Homo sapiens: one gene and its partners. The protein of the gene in region 3 purifies or fractionates together with the protein of the main gene of each other region. This does not show direct contact. Each region holds a gene or a part of one and is shown on either strand. Other genes may lie near its edges.

What was found. Proteins that work in one complex are often made in the same cells at the same time.
Region 1: the proteins of IFT46 (region 3) and IFT172 purify together in Homo sapiens (affinity purification with mass spectrometry; 2 studies listed by BioGRID and IntAct, with this or other methods). This does not show direct contact.
Region 2: the proteins of IFT46 (region 3) and KATNIP purify together in Homo sapiens (tandem affinity purification; one large-scale study listed by IntAct). This does not show direct contact.

Annotation. Positions count from the first base shown.
Region 1 is NC_000002.12:27,443,693-27,448,508, forward strand, and holds the end of IFT172 (intraflagellar transport protein 172 homolog), read right to left. Parts: intron 4,231-4,816; coding exon 4,120-4,230; intron 3,943-4,119; coding exon 3,823-3,942; intron 2,790-3,822; exon of another isoform or gene 2,664-2,789; coding exon 2,568-2,663; intron 2,297-2,567; coding exon 2,237-2,296; intron 2,152-2,236; coding exon 2,053-2,151; intron 1,758-2,052; coding exon 1,604-1,757; intron 1,414-1,603; coding exon 1,322-1,413; intron 830-1,321; coding exon 740-829; 3' UTR 685-739; downstream 1-684. Other genes in the region: KRTCAP3 (keratinocyte-associated protein 3), read left to right, coding at 257-364. UniProt on the Homo sapiens protein: Required for the maintenance and formation of cilia. Plays an indirect role in hedgehog (Hh) signaling, cilia being required for all activity of the hedgehog pathway.
Region 2 is NC_000016.10:27,748,879-27,753,694, reverse strand, and holds part of KATNIP (katanin-interacting protein), read right to left. Parts: intron 4,112-4,816; coding exon 3,389-4,111; intron 1,977-3,388; coding exon 1,771-1,976; intron 1-1,770. UniProt on the Homo sapiens protein: May influence the stability of microtubules (MT), possibly through interaction with the MT-severing katanin complex.
Region 3 is NC_000011.10:118,557,659-118,562,931, forward strand, and holds part of IFT46 (intraflagellar transport protein 46 homolog), read right to left. Parts: intron 3,981-5,273; exon of another isoform or gene 2,959-3,980; intron 2,207-2,958; 5' UTR 2,172-2,206; coding exon 2,127-2,171; intron 233-2,126; coding exon of another isoform or gene 80-232; intron 1-79. UniProt on the Homo sapiens protein: Forms part of a complex involved in intraflagellar transport (IFT), the bi-directional movement of particles required for the assembly, maintenance and functioning of primary cilia. May play a role in chondrocyte maturation and skeletogenesis.

The sequences.
Region 1 (4,816 bases), on a different chromosome or scaffold from region 3:
ACATGGTGAAACCTCGTCTCTACTAAAAATACAAAAAATTAGGTGGGGTGGTGGGCGCCTGTAATCCCAGCTACTTGGAAGGCTGAGGCAGGAGAATCGCTTGAACCCGGAAGGCGGAGGTTGCAGTGAACCGAGATCACGCCACTGCACTCCAGCCTGGGCAACAGAGTGAGGCTCCGTCACAAAAAACAAAACAAAAAAAAGATGCTGACCTATCATTCAGGGCGAGGGTGTCTAACTCTATCTTCTTCTGCAGCTAGAGGAAATGACAGAGCTTGAATCTCCTAAATGTAAAAGGCAGGAAAATGAGCAGCTACTGGATCAAAATCAAGAAATCCGGGCATCACAGAGAAGTTGGGTTTAGGACAGGTAATGGGCCTTGAAGGTGGTGGCCCGGGTAAGAGCGGGGACAAGGAAGTGCTCTTAGAACTGGGTCTAGGTCTTGCCATGCTGCTTTCCCCTCTGACCTGGGTTGGTTCTCCCCTCTGTCCAGCAGGTGCTGTTCCGAGACTCAGTCCTAAAGGGTTTTTTTTCCCACTAAGCAAGGGGCCCTGACCTCGGGATGAGATAACAAATTGTAATAAAGTAACTTCTCTTTTCTTCTACTTGATTATGATTCCTTTTGGGGAAAAGGCACTGTGTGGTGTTGGGAATGACTTTGATCAAAGAATACAGTGGTCTCAATTATTTATAAAACTTTAATGAGGGAGAGGCCCTAACTCTTCCTCAGCTCTACCAACTACTGAAAGGAAAAGCTGGTGCTGGGGAGCCCTCCACACCACTGACTGATGAATTTCAGCACGTCCTGGCACACTGGGCTGTGGGAGGTCTGTGAGCAAATGGAAGAACATGAGAGGAACTTGTTAATGCTGGAAATACAAAATCAGCTCCATCGCAGGCTTCAGGGTCTGCATCTGCCTTCCTGTAATCCCACCCATCTTTCTAGTGTGTATGTGGGTTTTTTGTTTGTTTTGAGACAAAGTCTTGCTTTGTCGCCCAGGCTGGAGTGCAGTGGCACAATCTCAGCTCACTGCAACCTCTGCCTCTCGGGTTTAAGCGATTCTCCTGCCTCAGCCTCCTGAGTAGCTGGGATTACAGGTGCACGCCACCAGACCCGGCTAACTTTTGTATTTTTAGTAGAGACGAGGTTTTAACCATGTTGGCCAGGCTGGTCTCAAACTCCTGACCTCAGGTGATCCGCCCACCTTGGCCTCCCAAAGTGCTGGGATTAAAGGTATGAGCCACTGCACCCAGACTTGTTTTTTTTTCTTTTTTTAGTGCTGCCCTCTCTGCCTTCATTCTCCAAGTCCTCCTCTCTAACCTTGATGGCCATAAGGAATTTATTCCAGTTGTCCTTGTTAGCAGCCTTCCCTGGCCGCTTAAATTCAATTTTGTTCCTCAGAATGGGGTATCCTGTGGAGGAAGAAAAAATGATGAACTGGGGTTTGAGAGAGATTGAGGAGGGAAAAATGAGGAGCAGCCTGGGGGGTAGAAAGCACAGTCCTGTCTTTTGTACCCTTTACTGAATCCTAGTAAAATTAAGTTTATTGATCCTGCTGCTTTCTACCCACCACAGGATCTGGGGTGCTGTAGGCTTCTATACCTGTAATAAGGCAGGGCAGGGCTCGAACACCAGTGCTCGCTGCCACTAGGGAGGCCTCGTAGGCGCCACGCTCATCCCGAGGCAGAACCTGCTCCAGCCGCTGGTCCATGGAGACTGTAAGCACCCAGTCTCGAACCTCTTCTCTCTCAGCCTCCTGGAAAGGACAAGAAGGGAGTGGTAGCTTCACACAGGGCAGGGCAGGACAAGTTGGGGTGGATGGGTGAGGAGGGGGTTTGCTAAGCCCTCATCCTGTATACCAGCTTTTAGCCACGAATCCTCCTTGGATTGGGGGATGCAGTCACAGCCTTTTCTTTCTATTTTGCTTCTACTTTCACTGAAAAAACAGTGAGGGCTGAGGTCCTTCCAAAGATGGCAGCACAAAGATATTCTCCCTCCTCAAGGCACTCACACTGGTGAGGCCTTCCGGTTTTCCAACCCTGTGCCCTTACCGGTACATGCTGCTTAGCTGGGAGTGGCACCTCAAAGGGAATGTCTGTATCCTGAAAATCAGAGTGGTCAAGGCCATCTAGAGTCCCTTCCTCGATTGCCTGCAGTAGAGTGGGCAACCATGAACTAGGCACAGCTCGCGACTGGCAAAAACCTCCACCCTCGGGGCACAGCTTCCCTACTCACATCGGTCAGGTCCAAAAAGCGATTGAGGAAGATGAATGCCATGTTATCCCAGCCAACTGCCTGCAGCAAAGAAGAGTTGCAAATGGGAGTGAACAAGCTGGGTTTGAATGCTACTTCTCTGGGATCCAGATGCAAATGGGAGTGAGCAAGCTGGGCTTGAATGCTATTTCTCTGGGATCCAGGGAGAAAAATCCAGGAAGACATAGGAGGACTACATCCTCCGTAACATCAGCCCTACACTCAGCTTTCCTCTACCAGAGCAGAAGGGATATTCTATTTTCCAACCTTTAACTTCCTCCTATCTGCCCCACCCTTCCTTGTCCCAGCTCACCTTGGCAGCAATGCCTGCTTCATAGAAGGCTTTGTCTACAGGTAGTAGCTGGGTGTGACGCAAGAGTGAAACAGAAAGCCTGGCAGCCACGGTTTCCTGGGATTAAAGTCAAAGCATTATGAATATGGCACTAAAGTGACTGAGCTACCAGACCAATGATCCTGTAAGGCAGCCACAGAACTAAAAAACAACAATTATTATTAAACTGCTCTGGATTCTCAAGCTGTTCTGGGTCTTAGTTTTTTTTTTCTTTTTCTCTGAACAAGACACCTGGGCCTAGGTTCAATTCTTTCGCCCAGGCTGGAGTGCAGTGGTGCCATCTCAGCTCACTGCAACCTCTGCCTCCCGGATTCAAGTAATTCTCGTGCCTCAGCCTCCTGAGTAGCTAGGACTACAAGCGCACATTACCATGCCTGGCTAATTTTTTTTTTTTTTTTTTTTTTTTTTTTTTGAGACGGAGTCTCGCTCTGTCGCCCAGGCCAGACTGCGGACTGCAGTGGCGCAATCTCGGCTCACTGCAAGCTCCGCTTCCCGGGTTCACGCCATTCTCCTGCCTCAGCCTCCCGAGTAGCTGGGACTACAGGCGCCCGCCACCGTGCCTGGCTAATTTTTTGTATTTTTAGTAGAGACGGGGTTTCACCTTGTTAGCCAGGATGGTCTCGATCTCCTGACCTCATGATCCACCCGCCTCGGCCTCCCAAAGTGCTGGGATTACAGGCGTGAGCCACCGCGCCCGGCCAACCTGGCTAATTTTTATGTTTTTAGTAGAGATGGGGTTTCACCACGTTGGCCAGGCTGGTCTCGAACTCCTGGCCTCAAGTGATCCACCCGCCTCGGCCTCCCAAAGTGCTGGGATTACAGGGGTGAGCCACCACACCCACCCACCTAGATTGTTTCTAAGGTTCTTTCCACTTCTAGAATTCTATCATCCAAGTACATGAAATAAATATACAGTGAACAGTCAAAAATAAGCCCAGAATATGTGTACATTATAAGAGGTGAATAAAGAAATCATGGGATTTGGATGTTTAAACATAATGAGGCTGAGGCTGTGTGGGCACAGAGCCCTAAAAAGGTCGGAAGAAGAAAACCTCAGCAAGGGCTAAAGATTTGTTTAGACAGAAGAGAAGCTGAAAGACAGGTGGGGAGATTCAAGAGCCCAAGCTGAAGAATCCAGAACGTGAATCAATTCAGCTTTATACATTTGCAGATGAGCCCTTCTGACTGAGTGTTCCTTCGACCCCCTACATCTCACCAGCTGTTTGACACTCTGGGCTGCAGAGCGCGTGGCATAGTAATGAGCGATCAGCAGCATCGTCTTGAACTCCTCATGGGCTGGAGAGTTTGCCTCACTGGACTTCACCAGGTTTTCACACTAGAGGAGGGAGACAGCACAGCCTGGCTCAGGGGTCAGAGGAGTGCCAGGGCCATAGAGTGGTCTCTGATAGCCACCTGGCAGAGGAAGGTAAAATACATCTGAGAATAAAGGTTTATGTGCATCAAAGAAGAGATGAGGACAAGGACAGACGGAGCAGCCCTTTCGCTTCCTCACCAGGTTGAAGAGGACATCTCGAAGATCAGCCCAGCTATGATAGGCCTCGGCACAGTTGGTTCCAGGAGAGCTCACCATGTCAGTGAAGATCCTTTTGTAGATATTGAAGTTCTAGAGGTAGAGGGAAGAAGGGGATCTGAGAAGGGCATAGCTAGAAGAGAAAGTCACTGGAAGTGGGGCCAAAGGGAGGAGAAACAGGCTTTGTGTGTAGAAATGGGTATGTGTGTGTGTGCAAGGGCTGGGGGACAGTGGCAGATTTTTATTTTTATTTATTTTTATTTTTTTAATTTTATTTATTTATTTTTGAGACAGAGTCTTGCTCTGTTGCCCAAGGCTGGAGTGCAGTAGCATGATCTCGGCTCACTGCAAGCTCTGCCTCCCAGGTTCATGCCATTCTCCTGCCTCAGCCTCCCGAGTAGCTGGGACTATAGGTGCCTGCCACCACGCCCAGCTAACTTTTTATATTTTTAGTAGAGACGGGGTTTCACCGTGTTAGCCACAATGGTCTCGATCTCCTGACCTCGTAATCCGCCTGCCTCGGCCTCCCAAAGTGTTGGGATTACAGGCGTGAGCCACTGCGCCCGGCCAACAGTGGCAGATTATTAAGTGCTGATTATTTTTAATGAAGTAAATTATTTTTAAGTGCTGATTATTTTTGATAAAGAGAAAAGAGGAAGAAATAACTTTCTTAGCTGGT
Region 2 (4,816 bases), on a different chromosome or scaffold from region 3:
ACCATAGAGAGTGGCTCTTAACTTTGGCTGTTCACTGAAGCAGAATCTCTAGGGGTGGGGCCCAGACATTTTTAAAGATCCACCCAAGTGATTTCCACGGGTAGCCAGGATAAAAAATCCTGGTCTTCAGAGAGTCAACGGTGGGCCACCACACCCTTCTTGGGCCTTACATATAAACTATTTGCTCATTGTCTCTTTGCACCATAAGTGAAGGCGCTGGTCTCTCACGAGACTGAGAGAGTGATCCCCCCAGCCCCTCACAGCGCTGGGCCCATCAGAGTCCCTTACGAGCACCTTTGTCATTTGGAAAACGCTGGGCAAATGGAAGCGCCCAGGGTAGACTCCCACCTGGAGACCCCTGGGTCGAATCAGGAGCACAGGCACGGCTTGTGGCCCAAAAAAGGTTTGAACACATCTGAATTCACTGCCAGCATTTTTAAATGGAGAGGTTTTACAGAAAAATCCAGCTTTCTGGCTTCTCTTGTAAAAATCAGGAGAACTGGCAACAATGGGCTTGCCCCTCTTGGTGGCCGCTTTCCTTAGATGTGGGGAGGGGGAGGGGCACGCACTCCCCAGCTGCCTGTGCCTCCCCATGCCCTGCTCCTGCACCCCATGCTCTGCCTGGCTGCGAGGTACAATCCCCAGGGAACACCATGGGGTCCACACGACATGTTGCTGTCCTGCCTCAGTCATGACCTTCCCACAGCCCAGCCCCATCCCTTGTGGCTTGTGTTGTCCCCATTTCTCCCCTACCCTGTTTAACCATCTCCTCTTTTTCCTATTGGTCCTGACTTGAATTGACCTTGAAGGTCATCTTTCATTTTAAAAGATTTGTTTATCTGGCTAAGTGTGGCGGCTCTTGCCTGTAATCCCAGCACTTTGGGAGGCCAAGGTGGGAGAAGCGCTTGAGTCCAGGAGTTCATGACCAACCTGGGCAACATAGCAAGACCACATCTCTACAAAAAATAAAAAAAAAACTAGCCAGGCATGGTGGCATGCACTGTAGTCTCAGCTACTCAGGAGGCTGAGGTGGTAGGATTGCTTGAGCCCCGGGAGTTTGAGCTGCAATGAGCTATGATCACGCTAGTGTACTCCAGCCTGGGCGACAGTGCCAGGCCCTATCTCTAAACAAAATAAAAAAATAATAAGTTGCTTACCAATTAAAAGCATAAACTGTGGAATCACGCATTCAAGTTCTACCCTTGTTTCTCTGTCACAATGTGCCCTTGGGCAAGTCACTTGACTTCTCTGAGCATCAGTTTCCGAAATGGCAATGTTAATAGTCTCTACTCAGAGGGTTGTCATGAGGGTGAAACAAGAACACTGTGTACCCTGCTTGGATCATGATATGTGTTCATGAAACCATGGCTGTGATGATCATTATTTTAACTGTAACTCTGCCTATGAAAAGCATTCCTAGTCCTTCCATCAAAAACAACAGTGAATGATCAAAACGCAACCCCAAGCAAAAACTCCCCCCAGACTGCCAACCTCTGAATTGCAGAGATGACACAGAGCTCATTTCTCCTGGCTTTGATTAGAATTTGAATACTTTCTTTACTTCGGTTAAAAAAAAATAAAAAAATAAAAATAATTAGAGAATGAAATATGACATAGAGGACAAAAAAACAAAGTAGAAAGATGGGAAATGTCAACACAGTGGCACCAGCAGCTTAAAGGATATCCATCTTAATTCTCCCTGCTCTACTCTGAGTTAGGGGAAGAAACCTATCTGGGGGTCCCCCCACAGCCCCCCAGCTCCAGTCCTACCCGTTCATCAGCCCCCAAGCCAGCCTGGGTGAAGGGCCGCTCATCCCCCTCGCCGTCGGCCGTGCTGGGCCTCCTCATTGCCTCTTCATCCTGCAGGCTGTCCAGGCTCCCCACATCCAGGTCAAACATCTCATCAGAATAGAATATGGCCTCGAGAATGTCATCATCGGTTGTGAATAAGATCGTGTCTCCAAAGTGCTCTGGGGCTAATGGGTTATCAAGATGACAGAAAGGTCAACTCACTTCACATCCCAGAGATTTGTAGATCAAGAGCCTAAACCCATCCACTTCTGTGCTGTACAACCCCACACCCTTAACTGGTATTGATTAGTGTGAGCCTTATTAGTCTTCACAGATTTGCAAATGGAATGCACGGACCATAAGCATCACATGGATCTAAGGAAGGGATCTAATTTCATGAGAATCACTGTGATATGTCATCAGGCAAGTGACATTTCTTTGGGGTGGGCAAGGCACTATGCAAGACGCTGTTGGTACCCCACCCAGATCTTGGTGGATCCTTTTCTCAGAGTGCCTTGCCTGGAAGGGTGTGGGAGTTACAGCTCCAACCCGGCAAGCCTTGGTTCCAATGACTGCCTGGTAGGTGGGGTTCTAACGCCCTGCTCCTTCACCTTCAGGCAGGAAAGACCTGAAATTTATGTTCCAGACCTCCCTCAAGATCTGGTTGTGGCTGGGCTTCCTGGAAACTATATCCTTGCTTCACTATGCCAGGTTTCTCCTAGGAGCACTCCCTCCATAAGTCACTTGCCAAAGAATGCCCCATCTCAGACTCAGGTTCTAGGGGCCGGACCAAGACAGGTGCTTTATGGGAGATGCTGAATGAGGTCAGGCCTAGCACACTCATGCTGTAAGAGGGGATGAGTGGACCGGGTCTGTGGCTGGGTGCAGGGGCTCATGCCTGTAATCCTAGCACTTTGGGAGGCCAAGGTGGGTGGATCACTTGAGCCCAGGAGTTCGAGACCAGCCTGGGTAACATGGTGAAACCTCGTCTCTACAAAAAATACAAAAATTAGCCAGGTGGGTTGGTGCACCTGTAGTCCCAGCTACTTAGGAGGCTGATGTGGGAGGATTGCTTGAGCCCAGGAGGTCGAAGCTGCAGTGAGCCGAAACCATGCCACTGTGCAGGGCAAGATCCTGTCTCCCCACCCAAAAAAAAAAAAAAAAAAAAAAAGGGCTGGGCGCGGTGGCTCACGCCTGTAATTCCAACACTTTGGGAGGCCGAGACGGGCAGATCATGAGGTCAGGAGATCGAGACCATCCTGGCTAACATGGTGAAACCCTGTCTCTACTAAAAAAAAAAAAAAAAAATACAAAAAATTAGCCGGGCGTGTTGGCGGGTGCCTGTAGTCCCAGCTACTCGTGAGGCTGAGGCAGGAGAATGGCGTGAACCCGGGAGGCGGATCTTGCAGTGAGCCAAGATCGCGCCACTGCACTCCAGCCTGGGGGACAGAGCAAGACTCCGTCTCAAAAAAAAAAAAAAAAAAGAAAGAGAAAGGACTGATCTGTTGTTGGCTAGCCAGCTGGTCTGTTTTTTCCCATAGACTCTCAGCAAGTCACAGATAGGGGCTCTGAGAAAATTCTTACAGACACGCCATACCTCCCGCCAGGGTTCCAGAGGCCTTGGCGATTTCTCCTTCAAAGATGCACTGGGTGTCTAACAGCATTGTGATGTCCTTCACGCCTCGGAAGGAATGTATCCGAGATTTATTGTAGTTCCAAATTCTGATCAGGGCAACGTGGCAAGGGTGCGTGAAGTCAATGGTGATGGAGTGGGATCTGCCCCGCGTGAAGGGGGCCAGCCAGACATGCATGTCATCCTGGGTCCTGTTCACCCCGTCGATGAGGTTGGTGACCACGCGGGGGTCTTTCCCATAGGCTGGTAAAATATTGATATCGGGAGGGTCTGCTTTTATGTTTGAAATCTGCACCGGTTCACCCTTGGAACTGAATATTTCTATTCCGTTGAGGCCGACATAGTGTCTGTCCCCCCAGGTAGACTTGATGTCAATGACCAAGCGCTGTCCATAAGGCAAGACGGGGATTTTAAAGTCACCCCCAGCGTCTGTCTCTCCAGAGTAGCCATCCTGCCCTCTCGACAGCCCTGGCTGCTCCCCCTTCTTGGAGGGGGGCAAGTCGCTGTGCCGGCTGCTCTTTTGCTGCAGGAGCTCATCCAGGATGTCCCCCGGGAGCTCCGTGTTGGAGATGCGTCCCCGGTGGGAGCGGTCGAAGGCACTGAGGGAGCTCCATGACTCGTGAAGTGTGTGCTCCTGCTCACTGCGCCACCTTGACCGTGACGGCGTCCTGGAAGACCAGGTGTCTTCTGGAAGAAAGGACACAAGAGGGGGGAAGCCCTGTGAGTGGCATGTGTGGAAGTGGGGACCATTAGAGACTGTCTCCTGTGGTGGCTCTCAGTGAGGCAGGGCCACCTCCAGGGGAGCCCTCTAGAAACCAGCGGGGTTGTTCCCGGCTGTCTCCTTAGCCAAGAGGCCTCTTGGCACTGGATGGCTGGGGCCAGGCATGTTACCATCCTGCACTGCATGGGGGCCCTGGCACAGAGCTTGGTCTCCTGTCCCACACAGCTTCTGACTGTCCTGTGGGCCATTCAGGTCGGTAAAATAATTGTCTATGATCACCCAATTCCAGAATCTGGTTGTTTTTGCAAAAACACAAAGCATTTTTTCATAGACTGAATTTTCTAAGAATGCAATCATCGTGTGAACCAAGGGAAGACTACTTGGCTGTGTTAGAAACTTTGCCAGGAGTCGCTCCCCACTGTAGAAACTCACATGACCAGGGGCAATGCTGCTGCCTGAGGCGTCTGAGTCAGCCACAAGAGGGTGTGTGCTGGAGACTGTCACAGTCACGTGACTCTAACGGTGTTTTCAAAGACAATTTAATGGCAGGTGGAAGGTTTGTAAAAGAACGTTAAAAGGAAAAAGCCAGATACGCAGCTTTAAATGCAGCATATCCTGGTACGGGTGACATGCACCCGTGTTAACAGTGTTGTTCCTGGTTTCTGGGTGGG
Region 3 (5,273 bases):
TACCCCATAAATTACATAAAATGACTACACATTCTCTCTCAAGATAAACAGCTCTTTTGTTCTTGACATTATAACCTACCTTTCTGTGCTTCTGGCTCTCTCTGTACCATCCCACCCTCTCAAGTACATGAGAAGGGGTCTGGTGGCACTTGAGACTTGCAGGGGCAGGTGGAACAGGGTCCATGTCTTTGCCTCTGTGGCCTGGAGCCTGTGGCATGCCCTCCCTTAGGACCTGAAGGATGACCAATTGGCCCCCTTTAAAAGTAGGTTTTCAAAACTTGGTTTCTATATACCGTATGGCTTATACTGAGGTTAACACGTTTGATTCCAGTTGTTTAAAATTAATTTGTTTTTATGGTAAAGCAGCTATTGGCACACAAAATTGTGACACGTTACAGGACACCAAAAACTGCTTTTAGTCACATTTTGCTCTAAGAATAACAAATTTATTATACATAAAGTATATTCTAACTAAGCTGTAATATGCATGGCAGATAATGAAACACAGTTGCAGAATTTATTCAGTGACTATGCCTTATTAGTATATGACTGATAAGAACTTTCTAGAGCATTCTTTCTCAATTCAAGATTTGCCAAAATTATCCTTAGTCACATAGGAAGCAGTTTTGGCAGAGGGAACTTTTAAGAATATTGTCAGCCCGGGGTGGTGGCTCATGCCTGTAATCCCAGCACTTTGGGAGACCGAAGCAGGCGGATCATGTGGTCAGGAGTTCGAGACCAGCCTGACCAACATGGTGAAACCCCATCTCTACCAAAAATACAAAAATTAGCCAGGCGTGGTGGCGCACGCCTGTAATCCCAGCTACTCAGGAGGCTGAGGCAGGAGAATTGCTTGAACCCTGGAGGCGGAGGTTGCAGCGAGCTGAGGTCATGCCACTACACTCCAGCTTAGGCAACAGAGCGAGATGACTCTGTCTCAAAACAAAAACAAAAACCATTAAAATGCAGCCATCAGGCTGGGTACAGTGGCTCACACCTGTAATCCCAGCACTTTGGAAGGCCAAGGCAGGAGGATCACCTGAGGTCAGGAGTTCAAGACCAGTGTGGCCAACATGGCAAAACCCCATCTCTACTAAAAATACAAAAATTAGCCAGGCGAGTTGGTGCAGGCCTGTGATCCCCCAGCTACTCGGGAGGCTGAGGCATGAGAATTGCTTGAACCCAAGAGGCAGAGGTTGCAGTGAGTCAAGATCACTGCACTCCAGCCTGGGTGAAAGAGCAAGACTCTGTCTCAAAAAAAAAAAACAAACAAAAAAAACAGGCTGGGCACAGTGGCTTGTGCCTGTAATCCCAGCACCTTGGGAGGCCTCCCAAGTAGCTGGGATTACAGGCACCCGCCACCACGCCCAGCTAATTTTTTGTATTTTTATTAGAGATGGGGTTTCGCCATGTTGGACAGTCTGGTCTCAAACTCCTGACCTCAGGTGATCCGCCCGCCTCGGCCTCCCAAAGTGCTGGGATTACAGGAGTGCGCCACCACACCCGGCCAACATAAACGGTTTTTAAGAAATCATATGTGCAACTCTAAGGTCCTATATGTTTCTAGAGAGGTGGGCCTCTTGCCATGTTTCTTTCAGAAGCAGGGTGATTCTCTAGGTACACAGAATAACAGCAGCCAACATCTGGGTCTTAAGACCTCAAAATTAAAATCTCCTTCACAAAATACTGGCAGTATCACAAGTATTGACAATGAAAAAATGCCTAGACTGATAATTTCAAACTCGCTTTAGCATAAAATTACCTGGACTGCTTCCTAAAAAATATAAATTCCCAGGCTTTTACTTTTGAGATTCTGGGCTGGGACTGGGAATCCGTATATTTAAAAATAAGTACCTCAGTTGAGTATTATGATCAGGAAAGTTTGTGAAACACTGGCCTACATTATGTGAAATTCCTCACCAAAGTCAATTGTAGTAGTAGGCTTTATTCCTGAAGAAGGGTCAAAATCTCAAGGCTCTTTGTAACTGATTTTCCTCCATGAGCTCAAAGGTCCCTAACCCCTGGAGGTGAGTGTTCAAGAAATGTTTACCGTTGAACTGGTGTCATCTCTAACTACTAAAAACCCAAAGCAGAAATTCTACAAGAAGCTGTGAGTTTTACTGTACCTTGTTATTTTCCTCTTCACACTCATCACTGCTGTTATCAGCCATAGCCTTGTTAGGAAGATGGGCAGAACGAGGAAGTCCTTAGAAAAAAAGTTTTTCCTTTAGATTATTGTTAAAATGATTTTTAAAAACAAGTATTTTTTAGTTTTTAATATTTTATGCTCTAACCATTTTATAAAACAAGGTTTATTGGAACATCTGGCTAAAGAGACAGGAGACTGAATTCTAGTCATGGCTCTGCCAGTTCAATTCAAGATATATTTACTAAACATTACTGTGCTTAAGGCATTGGGTTAGACATTATACTATTCAAATTATCTGCCATTACATAAATAATATAAACTCTGGCCAGGGGCAGTGGCTCATGCCTATAATCCCAACACTTTGGGAAGGGGAGGCAGGAGGATCACTTGAGCCCAGGAGTTTGAGCCTAGACTGGACAATATGGCAAGATCCCATCTACAAAAAAAAAAAAAGAAAAAAAATTAGCTGGGTGTGATGCCATGCGCCTGTGGTCCCAGCTACTCGGGAGGCTGACGCAGGAGGTCTGCTTAAACCCAGGAGTTCGAGGCTGCAGTGAGCAGTGTCCAGTGTTCATGCTGCTGCACTCCAGCCCGGGCAACAGAGTGAGAGCCTGTCAGAAACGGAATGGGAGGGGAAGGGAGGGGAGGGGAGGGGAGGGGAGGGGAGGGGGAAAAGAAAAGAAAGAGAAAAATATACACTCTGCCCTTAGTTTACACATTAGTCAAATTAGGTTAATAACTAGTAAAGTACAGAGTGCTGAATTCATACTAAGAGTGGGTTTGAAGAAAAATTACTTAAAATGATTTTGCCTTTTCACCCCCTAGCACTGCTGGGCCGGCAGGTCTCTGTCGAGCCGCAAACGCGGGTCTCTGTTCCGCAGAATGGGGTTTATTAAAGTTGTTAAGAATAAAGCCTACTTTAAGAGATACCAAGTGAAATTTAGAAGACGACGAGAGGGTAAAACTGGTTACTATCCTCAGAAATGCTTGGTGATACAGGATAAAAATAAATACAACACACCCAAATATAAGATGATAGTTCGTGTAACAAACAGAGATATCATTTGTCAGACTGCTTATGCCCGTATAGAGGGGGATATAGTCTGCGCAGCATATGCACACAAACTGCCAAAATGTGGTGTGAAGGTTGGCCTGACAAATTATGCTGCAACTTATTGTACTGGCCTGCTGCTGGCCCGCAGGCTTCCCAATAGGTTTGGCATGGACAAGATCTATGAAGGCCAAGTGGAGGAGACTGGCAATGAATACAATGTGGAAAGCATTGATGGTCAGCCAGGTGCCTTTACCTGCTATTTGGATACAGGTCTTGCCAGAACTACCACTGGCAATAAAGTTTTTGGCACCCTGAAGGGAGCTGTGGATGGAGGCTTGTCTGTCCCTCACAGTACCAAACGATTCCCTAGTTATGATTCTGAAAGCAAGGAATTTAATGCAGAAGTACACCAGAAGCACATCATGGGCCAGAATGTTGCAGATTACATGCACTACTTAACAGAAGAAGATGAAGATGCTTACAAGAACCAGTTCTCTCAATGCATAAAGAAGAGCGTAACTCCAGACATGATGGAAGAGATGTATAAGAAAGCTCATGCTGCTATATGAGAGAATCCAGTCTATGAAAAGAGGCCCAAGAAAGAAGTTAAAAAGAATAGGTGGAACTGTCCCAAAATGTCCCTTGCTCAGAAGAAACATCAGGTAGCTTAAAAGAAGGCAAGCTCCCTCAGAGCTCAGGAGCAGGCTGCTGAGAGCTAAACCAAACAATTTTCTATAAAGATTTTTCAGATAAAGACGATAAACATATGGACAGAAAAAAAAAAGATTTAACCTCTTTGAGTCTCAGTATTCCCACCTCTAAATGGGGTCACTAATATTTCTAACCCAGGCCTCTTATAAGGATCAAGTGAAAAAATTTATGTGCAAGGAACTGACCCAGGGCCTGGCAAATAATAGTCACAAGTTTGAATCCGAATCAGTATGCAAAGATAAGAGCAATTTTTAAATATTCTGAACAATTAAAAGGATAATTAATGACAGGCGCAGTGGCTCACACCTGTAATCCCAGCACTCTAAGAGGCGGAGGCAGGCAGATTGCTTGAGCCTAGGAGTTCAAGACCAGCCTGGGCAACACGGTGAAACCCTGTCTCTACAAAAAATACAAAAATTAGGCCGGGCACAGTGGCTCCTGCCTGTAATCCCAGCACTTTGGGAGGCTGAGGCGGGTGGATCACCTGAGGTCAGGAGTTCGAGACCAGCCTGGCCAACATGGTGAAACCCCGTCTCTACTAAAAATACAAAAAAATTAGCCAGGTGTGGTGGCACACTCCTATAATCCCAGCTACTCAGGAGGCTGAGGCAGGAGAATCGCTTGAACCTGGGAGGTTGAGGTTGCAGTGGGCCGAGATCACGCCATTGCACTCCAGCCTGGGCGACAGAGCAAGACTCCATCTCAAAAAAAAAAAAAATTAGCTGGACATGGGGGCATGGGCTGGTAGTCCCAGCTACCGGGGGTTCTGAAGCAGGAGGACTGCATGAGCCCAGGAGGTCGAGGCTGCAGTGAACCGTGATCATGCTACCGCACTCCAGCCTGGGTGACAGAGCAAAACTCTGTCTCTATAAATAAAAAATTAAATTAAAATAAAAGTATAATTAGATGTAAGGCATTAACTGGAATGAAAACATGATAAATGATTTCTATATCAAATAAATGCAAATTAAACCCTTTTTTTATTTACTAAATTAGCCCAAATTAAAAACAAATTATAATATCCACAGCTGTCAAGAGCATAAACACGCTCAAGTCAAAAACCTAGGTGGCTAGGTCCCAAAGAATTGAAAACAGGGACTCAAATGGACACTTGTACACCTCTGTTCATAGCAGTGTTATTCACAATAGCCAAAATATGAAAACAACCCGAGTGTCCATTAACAAATGAATGAATTAAAAAACGTGGCATAGGCTTGGTGCGGTGGCTCACGCCTGTAATCCCAACACTTTGGGAGGCCGAGGTGGGTGGATCACAAGGTCAGGAGATCGAGGCCATCCGGGCCAACATGGTGAAACCCCGTCTCTACTAAGAATACAAAAAATTAGCTGGGTGTGGTG